Linked DNA regions of Homo sapiens. Changing the gene in region 1 together with any one later gene gives a genetic interaction. Each region holds a gene or a part of one and is shown on either strand. Other genes may lie near its edges.

The links.
Region 2: of AXIN1 (region 1) and CSNK1E, changing one suppresses a phenotype caused by changing the other (phenotypic suppression), as found in Homo sapiens cells (one study listed by BioGRID).

What each region holds. Positions count from the first base shown.
Region 1 is NC_000016.10:289,920-293,821, reverse strand, and holds part of AXIN1 (axin-1), read left to right. Parts: intron 1-103; coding exon 104-334; intron 335-2,524; coding exon 2,525-2,632; intron 2,633-3,902. UniProt on the Homo sapiens protein: Component of the beta-catenin destruction complex required for regulating CTNNB1 levels through phosphorylation and ubiquitination, and modulating Wnt-signaling.
Region 2 is NC_000022.11:38,310,763-38,314,664, reverse strand, and holds part of CSNK1E (casein kinase I), read left to right. Parts: intron 1-495; 5' UTR 496-507; coding exon 508-583; intron 584-3,902. Other genes in the region: TPTEP2-CSNK1E (casein kinase I), read left to right, coding at 508-583.

The DNA.
Region 1 (3,902 bases):
CCTATCCCTCAAGGAGGCTGCCCTTGTGAGATGAGTGTAGCCCCACCAGGCCACCTGGCCAGGGTGTCGGCCACAGTCACAACTTGTTCTCTTGTTCCCCAAGGTCTTCGGGGACGAGGAAGCCACAGCCCCATGAGAACTCCAGACCCTTGTCCCTTGAGCACCCCTGGGCCGGCCCTCAGCTCCGGACCTCCGTGCAGCCCTCCCACCTCTTCATCCAAGACCCCACCATGCCACCCCACCCAGCTCCCAACCCCCTAACCCAGCTGGAGGAGGCGCGCCGACGTCTGGAGGAGGAAGAAAAGAGAGCCAGCCGAGCACCCTCCAAGCAGAGGTACGGCCGCGTCGTGGGGTGGGGTGGGTCTTGGGGGTTACCACAGCACCACTCCTGGGGCTGAAGCTCCCCGAGGCCTGAGGTCTTCAGGGGAAAAACGGCCCTCTGGGTGTCCCCCAGCCATACTGGGCCCTTCCATCCACTGAGAACCACTGAGGGGCCACGTGGCAGGCCACCCTGCGGTGGACGGAGGCTGGGGCTGGAGCTTTCACACACCCGAGGCCGCCGCGCTCATTGCTCTGGAGGCGGGGTCCCTCCTCAACCTGAGCCCAGTCTGCAGGGAGGCTGCAGGGCCCCAGTGTGTGGGGAACGCCGGTCCCCAGCCAGAGGCTGCTCGCTGCTGGGCAGCCTGGGCTTTAGGGCAGAGGTCCTGGAGGCATGGCGGCTGCCTCTTGACAGTTGCGTCCCAGGAGCCCTGAGTGGCTCTGCACGGTCGGAAAGCTACGTGGTTCTGAAAGCCGTGCAGATGTAGAAGTGTCGTCCTGGACGTCCAGCCCACAGCCCTCCTCGCTGTGTCCTCTTGTCATCCTGGATGTCCAGCCCACAGCCCTCCTCACTGTGCCCTTCTCTCATCCGGGACGTCCAGCCCACAGCCCTCCTCACTGCGCCCTCCTTGGTCTTCTGGGCTCCGTAGCCAGACCCTGTTCTCTCCCTAGGGCAGGGAGGCTTCTGTCTGGGCTGCAGGGAGGTCTCCCCTTTGTGTGGGCAGCATTTTCGCTCCAGGCCAGAACCTGGCTTCTCCATTTTCAGCTTGCTCATAAGGCCAGTTTTCTCGGCCATCCTGGGTCATTGGAATTCCCCACAGATCAGTGTCTCTTTGAGGGTCCTGGGAGCCTATAGCTCACCCAGGCCCTGGGGCTGTGGTCACAGAGGCCATGGTTGCCTTCAGAGGTCACCAGCTCCTCCTGTCCACCTTGGGTCACCTGGGGCCTGGGGTCCAGGCCCGCCTCCCGGGCCTCCAGCTTTGGGGCTGTGCCACTCCAGGGAGGCTGTGGCTAGGGGCCTTATTCTGCCGAACCAGCATCAGGGTTCAGACCCTTCCCAGCTGAAAGCCTGTGTGGTCTCAAGTCATTAAAGGTTCCTGAGCTTCTGCCAGGCTGTGAGCCTAATGACAGCTCTGGGGCCAGAAAGGGTCACAGTTACCTCAAACCCAAAGGGTGACCACTTTATGACCAAACATCTGTGACCCTGTGATCGTGTTCGGCCAACAAGGAGCTGGAGCCCCCTGCCATGCAGGAGCCTGGAGTGTGGTGCTCGGAGCCGGGGCGTGTGACTGGGCTGGCAGATGAGCCGTGGTGGGCATCGTGTGCAGCAGGTCCGAGGCCCTGGGCGTGTGTGGGCTCTCCTGCCGGGGCTTCCTGAGCCATCCTTGCTGGGCTGAGCAGGGGTCTCTCAGGTTGCGTCTGCGCTTTCCCCTGGTACCCGTGGCCCCACATGATGGCAGGGGATGCCCGCTGAGCCGTGGGACCACTCCCGCCGTTCTGAGACACGACCCTCCCGCCCGTTTGGCTGCTGGGCTCCAGCATCCCCCCATGGGGAAACCCAGAGTTGCTGGGTTTGTCCGTCCAGGGGATGTGGGTTTTTGCGAGAAGCTGTGGAGACGGAGTGAAGGCCCAGAGGCAGGTTGGGTGCTGGGCCCTGTCAGGATGTCAGAGTAGAAACCACCATCAAGGTCGCCCAGTGTACCCCGGTGGAGGTGTCCACGTGAGAGGAGCTGCTGTGCTGCCCCAGGATGGCCTCAGTTGTGGCGCCGGGGGGCCCTCAGCCTCCCTGAGGTGCAGACCGAGTTGCCACGCACGCCCCAGAGCCAGTGTCCACGCTATCGGTGGGGAATTCATGCCAAGAGACTGAAGGACAGACTCTCGGGACGAGATGTCATCCCACCAGAGGGGATGAGGTGGTGGGATCCCAGCACCCCTGATCGGAAGCTCCCCAAAGTGCGGTCCAGGGAACTCAGGGGGTTGGTGCCGGGATCATGAATGTGGGGCGCGCTGCAGTATCGGGTACCACCAAGGCAGGCCTAGGAGGGGACTCGGTGTCTTGTCTACCCTGCAAACTGGAGCCTGCGCAGGGTGGGTTGTTCGGGCCCTTCACGCTCCGTCCGTCCCTGCGCAGCAGCATTGGTCGAGGCTCCCTCCCCAGGGCTGGTGGCCGCCGGCACAGCCACCTTTGACGCGGGTTGTTCCCTAGGTATGTGCAGGAGGTTATGCGGCGGGGACGCGCCTGCGTCAGGCCAGCGTGCGCGCCGGTGCTGCACGTGGTACCAGCCGTGTCGGACATGGAGCTCTCCGAGACAGAGTACGTGCGTCCTGAGGGTCCTCCCGGTCCTGCCCACCCCAGCCCTGGCGTCCCAAGCCAGGTCCCATCGTAGAGCCGCCGTCCCGGGGCTTGAGCTCGGGTACCACGCTCAGAAGCAGCTGTGGCAGGAGAGGGTCCCGTGGCATCAGACTCGAAGCTGCCCGAGAGCCTTCTCCTGTCTCCATCAAAGGAGACGCTGACTGTCCAGCATGATGACAAGTGACCAAAAGGCCCGGCTGGAGGCCTGGGCACAGCCAGCCCCTGCATCCACACAGGTGTCACGGCCAGGCTTCCTGTGGGGCAGAGACCTGCCTGCGCCTCCACCCGGCTTGGAACGGGCCGGTCCCTGCCAGGCCTGACTTGACCAGGCTCGGGGCTGCAGGTGCTGAGGTGCCCGGGGTGCGTCTGCTTGCAGTGTGGGTCTCAGCCATGCGTGTCTGTCCAGCCCGTGCAGTCAGTGAGTCGGGGCTCTGCTCCCACCTACAATGCTGACTGCTCTGAACCCGTGAGAAAGGGCTCAGACCATGTGATCCCACATGGGCCGTGTCGACGGCGCCTTTATGTGCTCAAGGTGGCAGGAGGAGGGGGCACACCCCAAAAGGGGCCTTGAGAACAAGGGTCCCCCAGGCCTTGCCAGGCTTGCCCCAGATGCAGGTTTGTTGTGGCCCTCATCGTGTAGGCGGTCTTGGGGCAGCCTTCACCTGTCCCTGGGGCAGCCCCCACGTGTTGGCTCTTCTCTGATGGGCCTGGCTCCAGGAGGCTCCGAGGATGTGGCACTGGGAGGACGTCTAAGAGCGCACGTGGCTGGGGGCCTGGTGTGCAAAGAGGATGGTCACATGGCTCAGGTGGCCATGAGGCCTTCCTGCCCTGGTGTTGGCTCTGGAAGCCTCTGGTGCACCCAGCCAGGAGGAGGCCCAAGGGCTGAACCCCAGTGGGCCAGGGGCAGCTTCTGGAGTCACTTGAAGGACAGGTGGCGGCGGGGTAGCCGAGTGGGGGGTGCGAGAGCAACCAGGCCCCGCCCGTCATCCCGGCACGGCTGTGGAAGCACAGCACCTGTCAGAGGAGGGCCCGGCTCAGCCTGGGCAGGAGACGGTGCCAGCCCTGCCCCCTCTGAAGGGCCTGCTGGCCACCCCCGCCCCAGTCCTCCGACAAACTTCGCTGCGGGGTCAGGCTTATCCAGAAATCGTGCACAGTTCTGTTTGTCCAATCCCTGCCCTTCAGATGTTTTTAAGGTTTGGGGGCCGTAGGTCTTCCTGAGATAGGAGCCCTG
Region 2 (3,902 bases), on another chromosome or scaffold:
TCATGACGTAGAGATGGGGAGGTGGCTGGAAGGTGGATGGTCGAGGGCATTCTTTTCTGCCTTCCCCCCAGTAGGGGATGCGACTTTCTCCTGCAAGGCGTGCTGGGCACTGGCGAGGTCTGGCCTCTGGGCAGGGGCAGTACTTGGGAAGACCAGGCCAGGCTGTGGGAGCCTGGGGGGTAGGAGGTGTAAGAGGGCTGATGCCCGTTGTGATCCCTTGAGAAGCTTCTTTTGAGGGGCCCCTGAATGAGCATCCCCCAAAGACATGCTTGCTTGGCTGCTTCCTCTCTGGCCACACTGAAACCTGTCCTCAGCCTGCCTTAGCTGTTCCCCAGGTGTGTGGAGTGCAGGCTGTGGGCCACCTGACACCTGCAGAATGTGGTCTTCGAGAATGCAGGTTTTCGAGTTCCTGGTGGCTCTGCCTGGCCTTGGTGGACTGGACCCCTTTCCCGGCTCCCCACGTCGCTGACCCTCATGTTCCTGCTTCCTCTGCAGCAAGAGTGAGCCATGGAGCTACGTGTGGGGAACAAGTACCGCCTGGGACGGAAGATCGGGAGCGGGTCCTTCGGAGATATCTACCTGGGTAAGTGTTCCTAGCTCCAGCTGGAGCCCCTGGGGCCAGCCCATGGGACCAAGAGGAGGAAAGACCCCAGGATTTGGGGATCTGAAGTCAGAATGTGGCTCCAGGGGCATGATTTGCCCCAGGGCCATCCCAGATGGGGAAGGAAGCAGCAGGTTGCCGGGAGGCAGGCCAGGGGGCTCCTCTCGCAGGCCAGGCTGGGCACTGGAGGGTATTTTTAGCTCCAGTTTCTGCAGGAGTCATGCGGTTCTTTTGTGCCTCAGTGTCCCGGGTCAGCTGGGTCACCAGCTGGGTGTGGGAAAACCCAGGCGGGGTTCACATCCTCTCCCCTGCTTCCTGGGAGAAGGATATTGGTAGATAGAAGGGACTTGGGTTGCTGCTGGACCCCTAGCCAGGCCCCCCTCTCTATGTCCTGGCCTCCTGGAACCCAGCCCAGGCAGGCTTTGGGATGACGCAGGCTCCCCTGTAACCTCGGGGGTGGGGTGGGGGGATGCGGTCTCCTCATTAGGGAGTTCTCTCTCTCTCTTTTTCTCTCCGGATGTGCTTCCTGTTGAAAGTATGAGTATGCTGTGATGTTGCATTTTAAACAAATCACTGACCTCTCAGTCCTCCCCTTGGCCTGGGAGAAATGAGGCTTGCGCCTTTCAGTGCCACTTCTGAGGGGCACGGTCATGAGTCTTGGCCCTTCCTTTGTGCTTATTGGTCCAAAGGGAAGGTATTTAGTGTTGGTGCTTGTGGATTAGCGGGTGGAGGCTTGAAGTTGCTGGAGTGAGGTGGCCAGCCCTTCTACGAGTTATCCTCATTCCTGTCCCTGCACCCTCAGAAGCAGGCTAGACACACCTCTGTGCCTTGGTTACCCTCCTTGGAAAATGAAAATCAGCTCTGTCCAGTGCAGAGAACACCAAGTCTGTGTGTCGTGTCCATCAGCTCAGAACTTCGGGGTTTCTGTTACCCCATGGTTAGGGTTCCTTGGAGTATGAAATGTGCTAAGGAAGCCTCAATGGAGACGGGGACGGAGACTGGGAGTTCCCTGACCACTTCCTTGCAGGGTACTTTCTGCAGCCCCTAGAGATAGTACCAGATTATTTGTTTGGCACATCAGGAAACTGAGGCACAGATGGTCAAGTTGGCCTCCCAAGACCGCTCTAGAAAACTGGCAGAAGCAGCCTGTATGCCCACAGCCCTCCACATGAGTGAGAGCGTGGAAGACAGAACATGCCGAGGGAGACGTTAGACGTCTAGCTCTGCGTTCTAGACGTGGCTTTGTGTGGCTGTGGGAAGGTCATGCAGCTCCTCTGTGCCTCAGTGTCCCCATCTGTAGTTTGTGATAATGCTGCCTGACTGACCAAGAACTGTTCCAAGGCAGAGATGAAATGACAGATGGGAAAGTATTTTGTAAACTCTAAAGTGCCAGCCAGATGTGCAGTTCATTGCTGAGTGCTTAGTAGATGAGCCTCCCCTATGGACACCCTGGAGCTCAGAGGGAGGGAGAGTGTGTGGTGCAGCTGGTTTAAAGGTTTTTCTCTGCGACCCCAAGCTACTCCCGGGGAGGCAGGCATTTGGTAATATCTGCTAGTGCCCAGCGCAGTGGGTGTTCACTGAAGGCTAGTCAAGCAAACCAATGAGAAAATGGGGATTGTGACATGCACAGACATGCACAGTAGCCTCACAGCAGAATAGAAAAATGCCGGGATGGCCAGGTGCGGTGGCTCACACCTGTAACGCCAGCACTTTGGGAAGCCAAGACAGACAGATTGCTGGAGTCCAGGAGTTCGAAACCAACTTGGGCAACATGGTGAGACCCCATCTCTACAAGAAAAATATAAAAAGTAGCTGGGCATGGCGGCACGCGCCTGTAATCTCAGCTACTCAGGAGGCTGAGGTGGGAGAATCACCTGAGCCATGGAGGTTGAGGCTACAGTGAGCTGAGATCACACTCCAGCGTGGGTGTCAGAGTGAGACCATGTCTCAAAAAAAAGGAGGCCAGGAGATATGGCTCACACCTGTAATCCCAGCACTTTGGGAGGCCGAGGCGGGCAGATCACTTGAGGTCAGGAGTTCGAGACCAGCCTGGCCAACATGGTGAAACGCTGTCTCTACTAAAGATACAAAAATTAGCTGGGTGTGGTGGCACATGCCTGTATCCCAGGTACTCTGGAGGCTGAGGCGGAAGAATGGCTTGAATCTGGGAGGTGGAGGTTGCAGTGAGCTGAGATCGTGTCATTGCACTCCAGCCTGGGCGACAAAGCAAGACTCCATCAAAAAAAAAAAAAAAAGAAGGAAAGAAAAGGGCTGAGATGTGGGGGCCAGTCCAGGTTCAGATCCCCAGCGTGTTCCTCATTTGCTGTGTGACCTGGAGTAAGTCACCATATCATTCTGAGCCTCAGTCTTCTCATCTGAAATGAGTGTACCCAGCTCCTTACTGTTTGTGAAATTGGAGTGGGTGTAAAGGACCCTCGTATTATTGAAGCTGTTGGGCTGAGCACTGAAGTCTGGAGCCACTGGCTGGAGGTCAAAGGGCATGGAGACAGCTCTTGGCACAGACTTGTTCCTAGACAGCGCCCATCCCAGGTCCCGTCGCTCTTTTTGCAGACAGGAGACAGGCCCATGGCTGGAGCGGGGACAGCCCAAGATCACTCAGAAAATCCAGAATCTTGTGTGGTGGGACCTCCCTGGGGACAGGACTTCCTGTTTATCTGCATAGTCATCTCATTCATTTTAAAAACTAAGTACAGATTTACTCCTCTTTGTACTGGCTCTAGAGTAAATTCGACCTAGGTTTGGGTGCTGGTTCTTCCTTTTGTGAGCTGTATGCGCTTGAGCAGGTGATGACCTTGTCCATCCTTGGCTTCCCCATCTGCAAAATGGGGTCGTGCAAAGTAATGAGGTCGTGGCGTGTAAAATACCCACGTGTGCTGGGCCCAGCAGTAGTGCTGTGCGCTGCGCCCCCACCATTGGTCTTAGTTTCTAGTTCGGAGTTGATTTCGAAGGGTCTGGGTCCTCTGGGTCTGAGTCTGGGGAGGCGAGTCAGACTCCTGACTCTCCCATCTTCACTGGTGCAAGGGCCTCAGGGGACCCTGCCCTGACTCACCATCCTGCCAGCACCCTCCTGGGCCCCTGTCTTGTTGGTTTGGGGACAGTGGTGATTGTAGGGCGTCCCCGGCCAGCCTTGCTGGCTCCATTTATTCAACACTCTGGCCACATTCTTATCCCCAGTGCTCTGCCAGGGCCTGACTCCAGATGGCCTCTGCCGGTGGGGCTGGATGCGTCCTCCAAGCCCTGCTTTCCAGGATCACCCGAGGGCCAGCACACTATGGATGTG